2 linked regions of the Homo sapiens genome follow. The main gene of each other region encodes a partner of the protein of the gene in region 2 in a complex. Each region holds a gene or a part of one and is shown on either strand. Other genes may lie near its edges. A codon is read from its position in the direction of its gene.

What was found.
Region 1: the proteins of USP25 (region 2) and TNKS are in contact, whole or in part, in a crystal structure (PDB 5GP7), measured with the Homo sapiens proteins. Residues at the interface, in NP_037528.3 of Homo sapiens: Ser1046, Ser1048, Arg1049, Thr1050, Pro1051, Ala1052, Asp1053, Gly1054, Arg1055; in NP_003738.2 of Homo sapiens: Arg836, Ser838, His842, Leu843, Gly846, Tyr847, Leu871, Asn876, Ser879, Tyr880, His882 (codon at 113), Asp900 (codon at 167), Trp902 (codon at 173), Phe904 (codon at 179), Glu909 (codon at 194), Gln912 (codon at 203), Lys913 (codon at 206), Gln934 (codon at 269), Glu935 (codon at 272).

What each region holds. Positions count from the first base shown.
Region 1 is NC_000008.11:9,747,912-9,757,585, forward strand, and holds part of TNKS (poly [ADP-ribose] polymerase tankyrase-1), read left to right. Parts: intron 1-112; coding exon 113-301; intron 302-3,697; coding exon 3,698-3,935; intron 3,936-4,632; coding exon 4,633-4,715; intron 4,716-9,674.
Region 2 is NC_000021.9:15,829,952-15,839,625, forward strand, and holds part of USP25 (ubiquitin carboxyl-terminal hydrolase 25), read left to right. Parts: intron 1-579; coding exon 580-650; intron 651-1,449; coding exon 1,450-1,678; intron 1,679-3,375; coding exon of another isoform or gene 3,376-3,389; exon of another isoform or gene 3,390-3,396; coding exon 3,397-3,597; intron 3,598-9,674. UniProt on the Homo sapiens protein: Deubiquitinating enzyme that hydrolyzes ubiquitin moieties conjugated to substrates and thus, functions in various biological processes including inflammation and immune response.

The sequences.
Region 1 (9,674 bases), on a different chromosome or scaffold from region 2:
ATGAAAATGGAGATACAGAGGAGTGAATTGTTAAATAAAAACAGGTATACACAATGGTGCTTTACCAGATGATCTCATTCTTAACTCTTTGTATCCTTTTCTTTTTTTTCAGCATGTTGACATAGCGGCTTTATTGATAAAATACAACACGTGTGTAAATGCAACAGATAAGTGGGCGTTTACTCCCCTCCATGAAGCAGCCCAGAAAGGAAGGACGCAGCTGTGCGCCCTCCTCCTAGCGCATGGTGCAGACCCCACCATGAAGAACCAGGAAGGCCAGACGCCTCTGGATCTGGCAACAGTAAGTCCTCATTTCAGATACTGATTATTGTTCCTTCTACTTTCACAGATGACATCAGATTCTCGGGTTCACCAGCTTACTTTTAGTCGTGTTTATTTCACTTAGAACAGAGATCTTCTGAAAATTTTTGAAGTTCACACTTTTTCTATGAAAATATAATTTAAAACTCTTAAGACAAACTAAACAGTAAGTTAATTTAATTTTTTGCCATTCTTAGCCTGCTGGGAAAACATGGATCTTAAGAAAACATGTTTTTAGAGTGTACCCTCAAAGAATTATATTTAGTAAAATATCTTGTACCTTCTATATTTGGCATGTTATTGTAGAGCAACTAATGTTCATGATAATTTACCTAAGTCTGTGAGATAGTCAAAGAAAAATTAACTCTGGGCAGTATTATTTAACTGCAAAGTTAAGCACTGCATCATCTTCCGTGAACTTTCTGAAAACCAGGGAGTTACTGTATAGTCACAGTAATTTCTAATTTTTAAGCCAGAAATGTTTTTTCAAGTTATGTTCTGTTTCATTTATTGATTGCTGCGTAACAAACTGTTTCAAAACACCCAGTGGCTTAAAATAATAATGACTTATTATTTCTTATGATTCTGTATGTTGGCTAGGAGATTCTTCTGGTCTTACCTGGGGTCACTTGTGCAACTGCATATAGCTGGTGGCTGGGGCAGAAACATAAAGACGGCTTCATTCATATGCCTGGGGCCTTGACAGATACAACTAGAAGGCAGGGGCCTCTCTAGTCCCATGTGGCATCTCATCATTAAGTGGTCTTGTTAGAATTTCTTCACAGAATAATTGTATCTCAAGAGGGAGAAAGCAGAGGCTGTCATTGTTCTTTAAGGCTAAGCCTGGAACTGACATGCTGTCACTTCTGCCACATTCTGTTGTGCAAAGCAAGTCATGAAGTCAGCTCAGGTTCAAGGGATAGGAAAACAGATTCCACCTTCTTTGAAAGGAGAAGCAAAAATTTCGTGGCCATCTTTAATCAGCCACAGTCTTCCCTGTGAATACAAATTAAATCTATTTTTCCCACATTCAAATTACACTCACCTGCCACGTGCTCCCCCCACCAACAGGGGGCAGATAGTCATCACTGGGTCCTTAGCAATTCTAAAATTCAGCCAGACACATGTTATCAGGGCCATCTACTCTGGAGTTAGGGAATGATCCCTGATTAGGGCCCAGTTCTGCTCCCAGGGAGTGGTTCACTGTGGCTGTCTTTTTTTTTCCTTTTTTTTCTTTTCTTTTTTTTTTTTTTCCCCCTTAAGACACAGTCTGGCTATGTCACCCAAGCCAGAGTGCAGTGGCGTGATCATGGCTCACCACAACCCCAACCTCTTAGATTCAAGCCATCCTCGTATCTCAATCTCCTGAGTAGCTGGGACTACAGGCACATGCCACTATGCCTGGCTATTTTTTTTGTTTTTACTTTTTGTAGAGACAGGGTCTTGCTATGTTGCCCAGGTTAGTCTTGAACTTCTGGGCTCCTCCCTCAGCCTCCTTCCTCAGCCTCCCAAAGTGCTGGGATTACAGGTGTGAACCACTGTACATAGCCTCTGTAGCTCTTGGCCATGCCCTCTGAATTATCCTTCTCTTTTCATAAGAAATGGATCATATTTACAGCCAAGTGGCTTTCTCAACCTGTTCCCTGCTCCTAGAAATTTTCGGGACCCTGAGCCTTTTATCATTTTGATCTACCTGTCCCTTTTAGTCCAAACTAGTACAACTCTTCCTTTGTAAACTTTTGGATTTCCCATCAAATTACACACCACTCCATCAGCCAAAAGCTCCACCCACAAATCTTTTCAAGACAGGTCCCTCTCTAACATGGAATCCAAGTAAAGGTGCAGTGGGACAATGCCCATAAGATCCTTTGAAGCTCTTTCATCTAGCCAAGGGAATTCACAAGGTACCACCTTAGAGGTTTTTTAAAGATTTTGAGGTAATATATCTGTACCTCTAGTTGATTTTTATTCTGAGGCCATGTTTTCCTGTCAGCACGCTGGATTTGACCTTTGGCCTGAGGCTGTGCCTTACTTGAAGAAACTTTTGCTGATGGAGAGGCTGGGAATGGTGAATAATTTTGTTTTCTAAGCTAGCAAATGTTAGGTGAATACATTTCCTTAAAGAGAACTGGACAGTTCCTTTCTCTCTTCCTGTACCTTATCATGGGCAGATAAACACACCAGTCCAGTTGACAAGGCAGAATTTGTTCTGGAAATTTCCTTAGCCAAATTTACAAATTTATTTAGGTTTACGTTCTACCTTCCGTAAGACCTCCTGTGGCAGCGTTGCCAAACTTTCTGCTACACAGCATTAGTCCCCTTTCTCTCGCCTTCAGTAGCACTTGCCTATCTATCTTCCATTCACAGCCTCCCTCAGCAATAACCAGGCCACCCTTCACGCCTCCAACCAAAGCCACATGTCCACCAGCACCCCACTTCCAGGTACTGGTGTGCATTTCATTTCTCTATTGCTGCCCACTAAGCCACCCCCAAACCCACTGAGGGTTTAACGTGACAATTTATTATTTCTCACACGTCTGGGAGTTGACTGGGCTCAGCTGGGTGGTTCTGGTTTTGCAGTTACCTGCACCTGGGAACTCAGCAGAGGCTGGAGCTTCCAAGATGGCCTTTCATCCCGCAGGGCTCTCCCTGCATAGGATCTCACCACTCAGTAGTCTAGCCCAAACTTCTGTACAACATGGCAGATGGCTTCTAAGAGAGTAAAAGTAGACACTGCCAATCCACTTAAAGCCTGGCTCAAAAGCCTCAGAATGTCACTTCTTCTCCATTCTATTGGTCAAGACAACTCACAGGGCAAACCACATTCGGCGGGTAGGGGGCAGAAATTCAAGGGGAGGCATACATGACGGGAGGAAGGAATTGATGGGTGGCTGTCTTTGGAGACTATCTCCCGCATACTCGAAAAGCAGTTGCATCTAATACTTAAAAACTGAAAAGTTTATGAATAAATGAGCTAAATTAAAGTGTCATCCCTTTGAAATTTCACCAGATGTTAATTGTACATGAAATTATTAAGTGTGAAGTAAATAACCAGATTATAGCTGTTTAAACGTAAACAAAATATAGTAAACACAGAAATTTTTTCTAAAGAAGGGTGACAGTTAACACTGAAAGTGCTTTTTTTTAAATGAAAGAAGAAATATCTTTAAAAATTACATAGTTTCTCCAATTCTGTCTACTGAAACTATTGAAACTCTTTGGAGCTGTGGATAGGAGAAGGAATGATCAAAAACCAGTAGGTGATAATGAGGCATTCATTAAGGAAAAAATCCACAAAGTATTTGGTTATCAGTGAAAAACTTACCATTTTAATATATAGTATTTTCATGGTTTTTGTTTTTAATCATTTTTTTAGGCTGACGATATCAGAGCTTTGCTGATAGATGCCATGCCCCCAGAGGCCTTACCTACCTGTTTTAAACCTCAGGCTACTGTAGTGAGTGCCTCTCTGATCTCACCAGCATCCACCCCCTCCTGCCTCTCGGCTGCCAGCAGCATAGACAACCTCACTGGCCCTTTAGCAGAGTTGGCCGTAGGAGGAGCCTCCAATGCAGGGGATGGCGCCGCGGGAACAGAAAGGAAGGAAGGAGAAGGTGAGTAGACCCCATGAATGCTTATTTATTTATACCTTTTGTTAGTGGAGCAGAATGACTTTTTTCTATTGATAACTATTGAATGCCTCAATTAGAGACGTCCTGTCTGTAAATTTTCATACACACAACATCTTACAAGAAATATTTCTTCATAGAAGGCTGCCACGTTTCTTGGCATTGTCGTTGTTCTTATTTCTGTATATTCTAGAGCATCTGTTTACAACCATAGCATCTTATTGAACCACTTATACTGAAATTGTGTCAGAACACAACTGAGAGGTCATTTCAGGAATGAAAACTAAAATGATAGCTGATACATTTAGATTTTTTAATTCATTAAAAGCTTTAGATGTTTCTATATAAGTAGCATTCTGTAGTATAAGAATTATACTATAATGTTAAAATTAGTATAATATTCTCTATATTTTTATAAATTACAATAAGTTATAATTCTATATTCTAACCATAATATTAGAATACAAATACTAATTTGATAAAGATAAAACACTCTGTTTTTACTTCCCAATCAACTTCAGAAATAAAGTGTCTAAATTAAATCTGTGTATTCTGTATTATTTTATGCCATGGAAAATCATCTGACAGCCAAGGTTGTCAGAGTCATGTCTAAATGGATACTGAAATTTTCTTTATATTTAGAGAATTCTTTCTGAGAATCTTTAATATGTTTCTGTTTTAGTTGCTGGTCTTGACATGAATATCAGCCAATTTCTAAAAAGCCTTGGCCTTGAACACCTTCGGGATATCTTTGAAACAGAACAGGTAAATACTCTTGTATATATTTGAGTCATTTAAATTAAATACTAAGATTAGGCTGGATGCAGTGGTTCACACCTTACTCCCAACACTTTGGAATGCTTCGGCAGGATTGCTTGAGCCCAGGAGTTTGAGACCAGCCTGGGCAACAAAGCGAGACCCCCATCTCTACAAAAAAAAAAGTTTTTAAGTTAGCTGAGCATGGTGACTTACTGGGCCCCTGTAGTGCTAGCTGCTGGGAAGCTGAAGCAGGAAGATCATGTGAGCCCAGGAGTTTGAAACTGCAGTGAGCTGTGATTGTGCCACTGCATTCTAGCTTTGGCGACAAAACAAAACCCTATCTCGAAAAAAAAAAAAAAAAGAAAGACTTATTAATTGCCACCCACCTCTTCCTCTTTTGCTTCTTACGAGCTATTCTTAAACCCACAACACATTTCTATAAGAAGCCAGAGGAGCCCAGTATTTTATACTTCTCCCCAAAATTGTCTAACAAATGAGTCTTTATTTTATCTTTATAAGCAGTCTAGCACTATGCATTTTATTACATGTCAAAACTTAGACCATGCAACTACCTCAAAAGAATGTTTTCATGATTGTCCTTGGTTGTTTGTTTCCGAAAAATGTCAGTCTTTATTCATCTCATTTCATTATTCATGTGACTAGGCTCCTGAAGCAGTTGCCCATTAATTTGGAAAGCACAGTAGTACTTAGACAACTGCACTTTTAAAAAATTGCCCCTTTATGAAGTTTCTGTTGTCCACTTGGAGTCTTAAATAATATTAAACCAAAAGTTGGCCATACATTCCAATAGACCCACCCTATTTTGGGATCCATCTTAAATGTCTGTGAAGGTCTAAGGATGGAGTCATCATTAGGGCATTTATGAATTAGGATTCTTCTGTTTGTTTTACTGTTTTCATACAGGATAAGGAGTTGTAATATTGTATGCTTTCATTATTATGATCAGCTTTAAATATTGAATGATGGTAACTCCTGAATTTAAATGGACTATTGATATACATGAAATTTAAGAATGGGAAAGGTGTTTAGAGAAAAATTATTCTCCCAGGTGTAGGGATCACCCTTGTATAATAACACCCATGTTAGTCCTCCAGCCAAGGAAGATATCTTGTTACAATTTGGGACAGGTGTAATAGAATGCTTGTAACTTAAAGTGTGCCAAAATCTGCCCGTAGGTATAATTCCTTTGTTTTCAGCTTACGCTTACGCTTACCCTGTTTTGCACAGAGATCTAATCTCCAGTCTACATATGTATTCAGTTTCAGAGGACTATACTCCCTACAGAGGCTGTAGGGGAGAATCTATTCCATGCCTCTTCCTGCTTCTGATGGTTGGCAGCTTCCTTGGCTTGTGGCCATGCTACTCCAGTCTCTGCATCCATCTTCACATTGCCTTCCTGTCCTCTCTATCTCTTCTAAGGACATTTGCATTGAATTTGAGGCCACCAGTATAATCCTGGGTGATCTCCTCATCTCTAGACCCTTAACATAATTTCGTCTGCAGACACTTTTCTTCCAAGGAAGGTGACATTCACAGGTTCTGGGGATTAGAACATAGACGTATCATTTTGAGGGCCACCATTCAGCCCACTACAACATAATATGGCCCTAGATATCTTTTTAAGACCTAGTCAACTTATCAGAGGTGTCACCCTTTCAATCACCCACCTCTACACATCTTCCCCTATTTTAGAATAAATCTGTTTTTTCAATTATTCTTTATATGACATAATTTTCCAGTATTTCACTGGCACCTTTGGCCCATTATGGTTCCCTTCTAGGCTTATAGTCAGTTTGGAGTTAACTTAAAAACCAGGTCTTTTTTCTTATTTATATCAATTATACTGTTAAGATTTTTTTTCTGCTTTCTCTCTTTTTTTTAGCTACATTTTTTCATTATAGTTCATCTTTAATGCTCTTAATGATAAGAACAGCCGAGTAGGGATAGCACTGGACTAAAAGAAGACCTTAATTCTAATTATTTTTACCCTCTTACTAGCTGTGTAAAATTGGGCTGAATGACATTTATCCTATCACTTCCTTTACCTGTAAAACCTAATGCTTATAAATGTTCAGAGAGTTAAAATCCTCAGTAATATTGTGCTGCTGTGTCAGCTTTTAATACAGTGATGCATCACAGGTGCCTTTGCGTCTAATGGTTAGGACTTTATAGACTGCTGTCTATAAAATCATTTTCTTTTCCAACCATTTATTCATCCTCTGGTTTGGAGCTTTCTTAGGACAATATCCTAAATAGTAAGACTGCTTCATCCTTATTCCCTAACTGAAGGTGTGAAAGCTGATTTAAAACCATTATACTCTGCTGTTCCCATATTACAGCTATAGCTGTTCTTCCCAAATCATTTCCACAATAATTGTAAAATTTCAAACACATCTTTGCTAAATAAACCAAAGACCTTAACTCAAACAAATAATTCCAATTTACTGATGAAAGTTTTCTAAAGAATGTTCATTTTTCTTCTTTTAGTCAGTTTGCATTATAATTTTATGTGTTCTTTTTAAATTTATATCGTATATTCGCATTGTCAGTAACTGACTTCCTGTGGCGTATTTATCACATTTTATTGATTTGAATAGTTTAATAGTTTAGTCTCCTAGTCACTCCTTCTGACAGCTTGTCCTGGTTTCATCAGTTTCATTGTTCTTTTTTTACTGCAGTTTCATTCTGAGTAAATGGTTCCATTGGTTTTCTTTTAGCCAGAATAATTTCTATAGCCTTTTATTGATCAATACATAGACGATTGCATTTAATGTATATTACCAAGCACAGTTCTTTCCCTCCAGACAGGTGATACTACCTTTCTTTGTATTGAACTGTGTCTGGCCCAATCATCAAGCAATCAAATTTATTTTTATTTTAATTGCAAATGTTATTTATCTAGCCTTCCATTATAAATAAATTTGATAACCTTTTCCATAACTTTAACCCTTAGCATTTTCTCCCATTAACATTCTATATCAGTAATATGTGATGATGGTCAATGTATTTGTATAGTCGGGGAGGAGTGAGGGTGCATGCATTGAACGCATTTAATTCATATCTGTTTGGCTTAAGCCAGGGGAGCCGTTGTTTTCTGATGCTCTTTGACATGCTTCTATGTCTCATTGCCTGTGTTCCTACTCATGGATGCCAGTGGGGTGTGGAATGTAGTTATTTTATTTCTGGTCCCAGAAGAAAACCTTCGGCACATCATAGCCTCACCTCCTATCTTCACAGTTACTCTCTTGGAAGTCTCTAAACTAAATTGTCCTGTTTCCCATAGATACTTTGCCAAGTTCTATGTTGAATAATATAGTATCCTTTCTAGTTAATGAAATATAGTACCCATGTGACTTTGGCCCTTCCTTTATAACATAGCTTTGTACCTATGAACATAGGTAGGAACACTTTTTATATGGGAAAGACAGATTTTATTTACACTGCAATTCCTAGAACATAAATGCTATCACTTGGAAGACTGCTTGTGGACATTTTTATGGTTAACCTATGTATTTTCATGGAAAGTGACCAGATAAATTTTGATTTCAAATTCTTGAAGACAAAAGCATGGCCTCCCATAATTCATTGTGAACTTGATTATAAAGTTAGTTCTTATTACTCCTGCTGTACCATACAACCTTTTAAGCCCAAGCAAGAGGACGTCTTTTTCATTAAAACTAGTTTTCTCTCCCCACCCAAAGTAAAATGACTCTCAGAAGCTAGAGGTAGCTCTTTTTGCAGTGACCTTTGCTTTATGTGCAAGATGACTTTAACTGACACGTGGATAATCTTTATTCTTAGTAATTTTATTTTAATGTATACTAGATAGAAATAACTAGCCCAACAAGCTTGTGATTTCCTCAGTATAATAACTAAGTCAAGGTTTTAAAAAAGGAGCAAGTTAATTTAAATATGATTTTCAGAAAAAAAAATGTCTAACAGCTGATAGGGGTATATATAAAATTCCTGAGTCTTGAAGCAACATGTCTAAAATCCAACTAACCTGCTTTCCATCCAGATATTTCTATTTCTTTTGTTGATGCAAAAGTCTCATAGTTACCCAGCTACAGAATTTTGGAATAATCTTACTTTCATTCCTTTTATTTTAACCATTTCTATTTACCAGGCCCTGTAAATACAGTTCTCCAGTTGCTTTCAGATTCATCCCTTCCATGCCATTTTATCTTCTTCTTATTCCCAGTTGCCTTCCCTTCCAAATCTGCCCTTCATAATGCCAACAGTCTCATCCTCCTAAAATACAACTTTGATCATATTACTCTGCTGAAAAGACTTCCCAGGGCCTTTGGTATACTTTTTTTGTTTTTGTTTGTTTTTTTTTGTTTGTTTGTTTTTGAGATGGAGTCTAGCTCTGTTGCCCAGGCTGGAGTGCAGTGGCGTGATCTCAGCTCACTGCAACCTCCGCCTCCCAGGTTCACACGATTCTCTTGCCTCAGCCTCCTGAGTAGCTGGGATTACAGGCATAGGCCACCATACCCGGCTAATTTTTGTATTTTTAGTAGAGATGGGGTTTCACCATGTTGGTCAGGCTGGTCTCAAACTCCTGACCCCGTGATCTGCCCGCCTTGGCCTCCCAAAGTGCTGAGATTACAGGCATGAGCCACCACACCTGGCCAGCCTCTGGTATACTTCTAAGCCTCTTAGTTTGATAGATAAGGCCCTTTAAGATCCTCTCTGTGCCTGCTGCTCTGCTGTGCTCCTTTTAATCCTTGATACATACTCTCCTGTAACCATTTTGAACTACAGTACTTAAGGTCCCTCAAATACTCTGTATTCTTTTAACTGATTTTCCCTTTGCACATGGTATTCCCTCTGTCTTAAGCCCACTTCCCTCCTTCCCCTGACTGATGAGCTCCTGCTGCTTAGCTGAATTATGACCTTCTTCTGAGAACCTTTCCTCATCTCCTTCCTGCTCCTTCCTTCCCA
Region 2 (9,674 bases):
TACAATCTAACCGTTTCCTTATTGACAGATATTTAGGTTATCTCTTTTTTAAAAATTATTGTGGACAATATGACTGTGAACATCCCTATCTGAACAATTTTGTAGGATTATTTTCTACTAGAAGTAGAAATAATTGTCATGGGAGTGCCATAATTTTATTTTCACTGGTGATTATAGTCGATTTTTATTCAGTTATGTGTGTGTACAAGATATGTGGTGAACATGTTTTACTTTGTTCTTAAGTTTACTTGTGTTATAGCAATATGTAAGGAAGCTTAGCTTTCATTTTCATTGAAACTCTCCTTTATAGATTTGAACAAAATTCACTTTTATTGGCTCTGCACATTTTCTAGATAAATCATATTTGTGTTGTTTTTAAAGTATGCATTTGTACTGTGTCTTTTATTAAGAATAACTATAATTCATTTTCTACAGATTTCAAATGGTAATGTTTTTTAAGAAAAGTTTTAGGAAAATTTTCCTATTCCTCTAACATGTTTGTAGGAAAAACATTAGTCCTTATCTTATAAGTAGAAACACATTTGCTGTTAATCATTAAATGACACCTTATATCCTTAGATTTGCAGGAAAGCATATCCAGAATCCATCGAACAATTGAATTAATGTACTCTGACAAATCTATGATACAAGTAAGTGAAATTTTGAGCTAGTAATCATTGTCAAAATTATTTACATATATTTTAATTTACCTTTACATTATCTTAATCTAATTTTTCTTTACATGTTTTGTTTTAAAATTTTGGCAAATCTTATTGTAAAATAATAAGGGCTTGCAATATGTACAATGTGACAGTTCATCTGAATGGGGAAACTTTTATAACAAATTTATAACAAAATTCATGACAAGTTTTCCCCATTCAGTTGTATTTTCACACCGTATGTGTTGTGTACCCTTACTATTTTACAGTAAAATCTACCAAAGTTTTTCAAAAGGCTATAGCATCTTTAAAAAGTCTTATGGGAGAAAATCTATGGTTGTTAAAGGATATTAAGATTTGGGAAGAAACTTAAGGACTCCATTACATTTTAACTTCTGGTGTATATCATATAATCTATTTTGTTAACCGTCAATTTAGAATTCTGAAGATGTAGACACATTTGCTATATGTAAAACTGCCCACTATAAGCTTTTTATTCAAATAAACAATTAGGCCAATGAGTATGTACACAATAAATACATTTTTAGTTTTTCAAAAATCATCTTTTTAATCTATCAACTTTGCATATCTTTAGCTTATTCAGATTCCGTCTTTTTAAAGTTTTATAGTTTAGTTTTTTTCAAACTTTTAAGCCCAGCCAGTTCTCTCTCATTTAAAAAAAAAAATGCTCTTATGGTTTTCTCCAAACAGGTTGTTTGTGGGTTTCATGGAATGTGGTATATAGTAAACTACATAATTGCAGTTTAACTCTTCTTTTTTTCACATTTAGGTTCCTTATCGATTACATGCCGTTTTAGTTCACGAAGGCCAAGCTAATGCTGGGCACTACTGGGCATATATTTTTGATCATCGTGAAAGCAGATGGATGAAGTACAATGATATTGCTGTGACAAAATCATCATGGGAAGAGCTAGTGAGGGACTCTTTTGGTGGTTATAGAAATGCCAGTGCATACTGTTTAATGTACATAAATGATAAGGCACAGTTCCTAATACAAGGTAAGAATATATAGGGTGGTGTGTATTTTTAAATAGTCATAAAAGTGGCTCTGGTATGTGGTGTGATTAGTTAAGTGTAATTCACTCAGACGATGAAGGATGTGGTTAGGAAATGCTACTGGGTTTTGACAAGACTGAATTGAAAAGTAATGTCGTCAGGGCTAAGAATTCGTATATATTTTGTATTCCAAGTCAACTATTAAAGGTAAATATGACCTTTTTCGTCCTTGCTAAAAATGCTTTAGTGACTGTTCCACAGATTGACTCACATTTAATATTTAATTCCTTAGCCTAACATATATGGCCTCTGTTCTTGGCCTCTGATTATCTCCCCACCTTCATTGATCACCAGTGTTCCTTTTGAATTTATATCCTTACTGAACTTCTTGCTGTATCTGCTCATATCAAACCATTTCACACATTTATGTTTGCATGTTCGTATATGTTTTATTTTTTGCTAGTAATTCTTTTGCCTAATTCTTGTTTATCTGTCAAGATTCAATTCAGGTGTCATTTCCCCTGCAAACTATTTCTTGATCTGCCAAAAAGTATCTCTCCTTATGCTGTCCTGGCATCTGTCTACTGGGCATTTACTGTTGTGTATTGGAACTGTGTGATGACTTGTCTTGCACATTTCTCTCTTATCTGCTCAGAGCCAGAGATCATGTCATACTATGTCTGAATCTTTTTAATGCTGATATTCTGATATATGCTTTGCATATAGAAAATAATAAAGGTTTATTGAAACTGATAAAAATAATCTTTTTATATTTAGTCATTCAGAATCAGCTAGGCAGTCCACTTCTGACTAAAAAAATGAAGTTATTTTTCTGTGTGTGTAGTAGAAGTTCAGTAATTCTTCTGAATACTCTATTGTTTTTAAGATCTTGCTATATTAATTTTCATAATTGCATATTTAAGTCTACTTAATTTCTTCATATGACAAACAATTTTCATTTTATTTTGAGCTAATAAGGTTAACATGATTATGAGTTGTTTACATTTTGTGAAAAGTTTTACTTTTTAAGTGATCAAACATCTGGTATTTTCCAATAGTGGCAGAAGTAGTATTACATCACTGTTAGAGTAGCAAAGAAAAAAAAAAATGGCCGGGCGCGGTGGCTTATGCCTGTAATCCCAGCACTTTGGGAGGCCAAGGTGGGCAGATCATGAGGTCAGGAGATCGAGACCATCCTGGCTAACACAGTGAAACCCCATTCTACTAAAAATACAAAAAAATTAGCCGGGCTTGGTGGTGGGCACCTGTAGTCTCAGCTACCCGGGAGGCTGAGGCGGGAGAATCGTCTGAACCCGGAAGGCGGAGGTTGCAGTGAGCCGAGATTGTGTCACTGCACTCCAGCCTGAGTGACAGCATGACACTCTGTCTCAAAAAAACAAACAACAACAGCAACAAAAAACTTGGCTTTGGCTTTGTATTTTCTGTCACTTCTACTCTTAAGATAAAAAAAAATCTGAGACCATTACCTATGATGGATTATCAAATATTTTCATCATTGTTTTTCTGAGCATTTGTTTGAGTTTTAAAAAGTTTTGTAGATAATAATTATTTGCTAAGCAATAGTAATTCTTAAGTAATATGATTGGCTGAGTGGTAATAATTCATAGTTTAAATTCTATTTGAAATGCAGTCTATTTTGAGCTTTGCATTTTCCCTTTAATTCTTAATTTTATACTAGTTTTTGAAATATGATTTGCAGAGGAGTTTAATAAAGAAACTGGGCAGCCCCTTGTTGGTATAGAAACATTACCACCGGATTTGAGAGATTTTGTTGAGGAAGACAACCAACGATTTGAAAAAGAACTAGAAGAATGGGATGCACAACTTGCCCAGAAAGCTTTGCAGGAAAAGCTTTTAGCGTCTCAGAAATTGAGAGAGTCAGAGACTTCTGTGACAACAGGTTTGTCCATTTTTATTAAGTTGTGTTTGATTATCAATATTATTTTTATAATAAGATATGCTCATTATTAAAAAGTTTTAGCTATCTTAAAGTGTGAGGAAATCAGTAGAAATCATTTCAAATTCCATCACTCAGATTATCACAGTTAACAATTTAGTTTACCTTTTTGCCAGACACCACTGTATATATTTATATGTTTTTCAAGATAAATGAGATAATTCTGTTGACTTTCCCTCTACCTACTCTGCCTGTGTTGGGTGGGCTTGAATTTTCTTGGCAAGTAGCAGAGAAAGCTGTGAAATCAGCAAGAAACCCAAACCAATTCACTAAAGCTATCAAGAGTATCAATTCAATAAAGCTATCAAGAGTATCAATTCAATAAAGCTATCAAGAGTAGTAATTTTAAATTTGGCCAAAATAATACTACCGGTATATTCATATATACTTTGTGCAATAGTAAAATACTACCATTAATAACTATTTGATGTTTTTCGGAATTCTTAAGATTAAGAGAAAATTGACCAAAACTATTTAGTATATCACAGGTAAAAAGTAAGTGTATAGACCTGTAAACCAAAGATATAAATGCATAAACATATAAATATTTAAAAACATTATTCTGAAATGAACTATTAGCTGATGAAATCAATAAGTCAAAGTAAACACTGTATAGGAATTAAGAAAATAGTTTCTAGTAAAATTGAAAATATATTGTCTTTTTATTTTCTTAAAAGATTACTCTTCACTGAGTTGCAAATATGTTTTAGGGCAACATGTTTTCTGGTATAGAAAATGCTATTTCTCAGAGAAGCTATAAATTAAGCGCATATATTTTCCTCAAACTCATTTGTCTCTTTTTATAACTGCTAGTGGATATTATTGAATAACTTTTTTTTTTTGCAAGATCTGCATGTTTTGTGTTTTAAGGAAGTAGTTCCAGCTTTTGTTTGTTTAATTTCATCTTTCGCAGACAGAGGTTTCCTTGCAGCATTACCTGGTTGGGCTTCAGCATTATCATTTGAACTTTAGAAGGAATTATTACTTCAATAGAAGATTGTTTTACAGTGCTACAATGTAGTATTGTGACTGTCGCAGGCATGCACAAATCTGTCCAGATACTTAACTTATTTTCATGTAGATCAAATAATTGTCGTTGATTTTGATCCTGAGAGGCAGATAATTCAGCATTTTTTAAAAAGATAATGGTATCACAGCAACATTTGGATACTACAGTGCTATGGAGAATACCACCATTATAGTGGCTGGTGAACTCTACCATTATGTAGGGCTGCACTTTTCCCCCACGTGTACAAGGCTACCGCGTAGAGCAGGTGAAGCTATGTGGGTCCACAACAATGTAGTTTTTAGTAGATGTCAAGAGGTATCTAAGCTCAAATCACAGTGTAGTAACTATATTATAGTTCCTTTCATTTTTAAAACATTTCTGTCCCTTTGTGATTTCATGCTTTGCATTCTGTACATATTCTTTCCAAATCACTCCTCAGAACCTGCCCCAAGATGGAGCTACTGTGTTATTGTTCCCTTAACATTTACTTATTCCATTCACATGTGACTATTCTTGTTATTAGTGGGAGGAAGGGGCTGCATAGTGTACTATAAGCAGTTGTGGTACCTAAGCTCCCAGACACAGGTGAATCCTCCATTCATTGGTTAAGCTCCAGTTTTATTCTTGGCTCACCTATATTTTGTGATACCAAAATATTAAGTTCTATATATCCTCCTCCTCTTCATCCTGTCTGTTTCTCATCTCTCCAAATTTTCAGAGTTAACATATTTTATTTCTGCTTAGTCAAACGAATACATATTTCCAACTAATATTCCTATCTATTAAGGACTAGCCTTGCCCCATCCTCATTTTACATTTGTCATCTTTTTTCTTTCTCTGTGAAAAGACCATGTGTGCATAACTGCATCCATTTTCATGATCAATACATCTGACCATACACTTTACATGGTGTTTTGTAATTTTTAAAAAATGCAGTACTAGGTATTGGACATATATTTTCATGTCTGTTTTTACCATGCAAAATAATCTTAGAATGTTGATATATTTCTGGGAGGAACCAGAATAAAAGATGAAGAGATGGAAATGGTCAATTCCTATTCCTAGATAACTTTTATAGTTACCTTTCAGCGTGGGTTATTTAGAAAGCAGTGGTAATACTACTTCTGTAGGAAACATTGTATCCTCCATAGACTTGACGGAAATATGCACTTGGTTTGAATTAGTAGAAGTAGAACATGCCAAGTCCATAAATTTACAGAGTGAGATTGTTGTTTAAAAGATTGGTTTCTATTACTGTTATCTTTGAGATTATATTAAGAAATTTGTTCTCTGTTGCAGGATAGTTTCACATATCATAATTGAATAAGACTAATGTTTCATTAGAACCATTTATTCCCTATTATTAATAGGGAAATTTTATTTTAATGTCCATGCCATCCTCTTCTGATTCTTCTCATGGTTTTCAAAGTAAGTAATTTAATTTGGTATAATACTTCCAGGATCTCAAAGCAAATCTGTATTTTAATCTCTCAGGTGTTCACTAGTATTACCAGTGACTAGTGGAAATAATAAAAGGAAATCTTGTTCATAAAATCCAACAGAATGATTTTTTTCCTCCCTGCAAAATCTTCTCGTTAAAGCTGAAACATAAGACCTCATAAAATTCAATTTCTACTGAGTGATATTCCAATTAAGAGTACTAATTCATATTATATTAATCAAATTAGTATTTGTTCCTCTTCTGCTAAAATGTGATCGAGAAATTCATGCGTATCAGTTCACCAGCACCATTCGTTCCCTACTGAGATAATAAATGATGGGAAAGTATTTTTTGGTTCATTTCATGCTGCTTCCCTAGATCTGCTTACTGCAAAGGCAAACTTACCTGAATACTTTTGTTGAGATTTTCAGCCAGCCATTCTTTGCTGTCAGTGTGGGGATCAGAATGAGTAGGGGAGCAAACTTACCTGAATACTGTTGTTGAGATTTTCAGCCAGCCATTCTTTGCTGTCAGTGTGGGGATCAGAATGAGTAGGGGAGCAAACTTACCTGAATACTGTTGTTGAGATTTTCAGCCAGCCATTCTTTGCTGTCAGTGTGGGGATCAGAATGAGTAGGGGAGCAAACTTACCTGAATACTGTTGTTGAGATTTTCAGCCAGCCATTCTTTGCTGTCAGTGTGTGGATCAGAGTGAGTAGGGGAGCAAACTTACCTGAATACTGTTGTTGAGATTTTCAGCCAGCCATCCTTTGCTGTCAGTGTGTGGATCAGAATGAGTAGGGGAGCAAACTTACCTGAATACTGTTGTTGAGATTTTCAGCCAGCCATCCTTTGCTGTCAGTGTAGGGAACAGAGTGAGTAGGGGAGCAAACTTACCTGAATACTGTTGTTGAGATTTTCAGCCAGCCATCCTTTGCTGTCAGTGTGTGGATCAGAGTGAGTAGGGGAGCAAACTTACCTGAATACTGTTGTTGAGATTTTCAGCCAGCCATCCTTTGCTGTCAGTGTGTGGATCAGAGTGAGTAGGGGAGCAAACTTACCTGCATACTGTTGTTGAGATTTTCAGCCAGCCATCCTTTGCTGTCAGTGTGTGGATCAGAGTGAGTAGGGGAGCAAACTTACCTGAATACTGTTGTTGAGATTTTCAGCCAGCCATCCTTTGCTGTCAGTGTGTGGATCAGAGTGAGTAGGGGAGCAAACTTACCTGAATACTGTTGTTGAGATTTTCAGCCAGCCATCCTTTGCTGTCAGTGTGTGGATCAGAGTGAGTAGGGGAGCAAACTTACCTGAATACTGTTGTTGAGATTTTCAGCCAGCCATCCTTTGCTGTCAGTGTGGGGATCAGAGTGAGTAGGGTTTTTTTTTCTGAGTGTGAACAGCACACCCTACCTAAGGCCACTTAAGAGACACTGGAGTCAGAATCTCTGGAGAAAGGATCTGATACAGTGCTATCTTAAAGAGATCTTCAGATAATTCTGAGGTTAAGCAGCATGGCTCTAGGCTGTATTTATAAAACAGAAATTATGCTGGAGAGAAGAGCGTTGTCCGAGTTACTATTTTACTTATATTACTCTTGTCTTATCCAAGAAGTATCTGAAGTCCTTACAATATAGCACACCCAGATTTCTTTAAAAAATAAGGAAACACTAGTGAAGATTGGAATGAAGTGTATTGCGTAAGGTTTTATAAATTTCTCTAGAGGAAGCAGGCAGAGTTGGCTCTGGAACTTCTCTACACTGTCTACAAGTTAAAAATAAGCTGATGTTCCAGGAGAGTACGGTTGGATCCTGAGAGTAAGACCTGGTAGAATAAACAGTATCGTCAGTGTTCTCAGATTCCTTGAAAGCAGGAACTAGGTGATATTCTTTTTTTTTTTTCTGAGACAGTTTCACTTTGTTGCCCAGGCTGAAGTGCAGTGGCATGATCTTAGCTCACTGCCTGCCGGGTTCAAGCAATTCTTGTGCCTCAGCCTCCTGAGTAGCTGAGACTACAGGCATATACCACCACACTGGGCTGATTTTTTTGTATTTTAGTAGAGACAAGGCTTCACCATGTTGATCAGTCTTGAACTCAAATTCCTGAGCTCAGGCAGTCCTCCCACCTCAGCCTCCCAAAGTGCTAGGATTACAGGCATGAAGCCACCATGCCAGGCCTGGTGGTGTTCTTATTTATATCTCCAGCATCTAGTATAATAAACGACATATGATAGATGTTCCTTGAAAGTTTTCTGTTAATAAGTTCATTCCCTATGGAGATTTCCAATAATGAATTTCTTAGGGGTGATCCTCAGTGTAGGAGAACATAAAATTTTAAAGTAGAAACAAAATAGTCACACAATAAGGAGGCAGGCCAAATACATGGGGTGAGGATGTAGCTCTTTGTCCCGGATAAATTTATGGTTTGACTCTGGTTTCTAAACCTCTCTCCCCCACACCCCTCAGACTTTCTTCGGAATGGGGCCCAGGAATCTGAAGTTTCAAAAATTCCACCAGCGATTCTATGCAACCACCTAAGCGTGGCTCTTTGTAGGCTCTTACAGGGTATTGTGGACTTTTAAATACATTTCTAGAAATGGATGCACTGTGTATCTCTCAAGCAGTCCGCTTTAAATCTTCTTCAGTGTGAACGTAATAAGTATTGACTTACTAGTAAGTCAAAAAAATAAAGACTTCTGAAAGATATCAGAGATGTTGGTCTTATTTTTATAGTTAAGAGCAACCCTTACTCTTTAATAGAAAGCCAATTGGTGGTAAAGTTGACCTTCTTAAAAGATTGAAGACCATAACCAGGAAATATGCATAAGTAAAGCACCCCCAAACCTCCTCAATAGCCTGTTTCAACATGAAGATGGACAAAAGGAGCAGACTCAGAGTTCCCTCAGAATGTTGAGTTGTCTTCTATAACAGCTAGAGAAGCATGGCCGGAAAATCACTCTGTGGAGGCCAGTCATTTGAAAATCCTAGAGAAATACCCATAGAACAGATGAGTGATTGGAGAGAGACTTTAGGAATAAGGATATTATTTACCTCCATAGAGAACTGGTCATTCATGGTGAAATGAGTGCATTTAAATTTTTTGTTTGTTTGTTTCCAGTCTCCCAGGGTTTCAAACCATTGTGGGTTTACCTACCGTGACTACAACACCACTCATCTAAGTTCCCTGGGAGGTATATACACAGGGAAAACCCTAGAGAAAATTGTTCTGTATGGCATTTAGGGAATTTATAGCTGTGGGCCACTAGTGATGGGGTTTTTAATAGGGTTAGAGGATGAACAACAATTGTATTATATGGTAAAAGCCGAACTTGTTCTGCTGTTGTTCCTAACACAGAAATAGAAATTACTAAAGTGTATGGTAGGGTATTAGTTGCGTGAGCCTTCCATACAGAACAACACAATATAACCAGTACATGTTACATTGAATAGAGAGTAATTCTTTTTGTTTAAAAATATGAGTAGGTAGGTACAGTCTGGAAATAATGTATCAGAAATATTAATAGTGCTTATCTCTGAGTAATGCAAAGAGTTTTAAATTTTCCACATTTTTCTT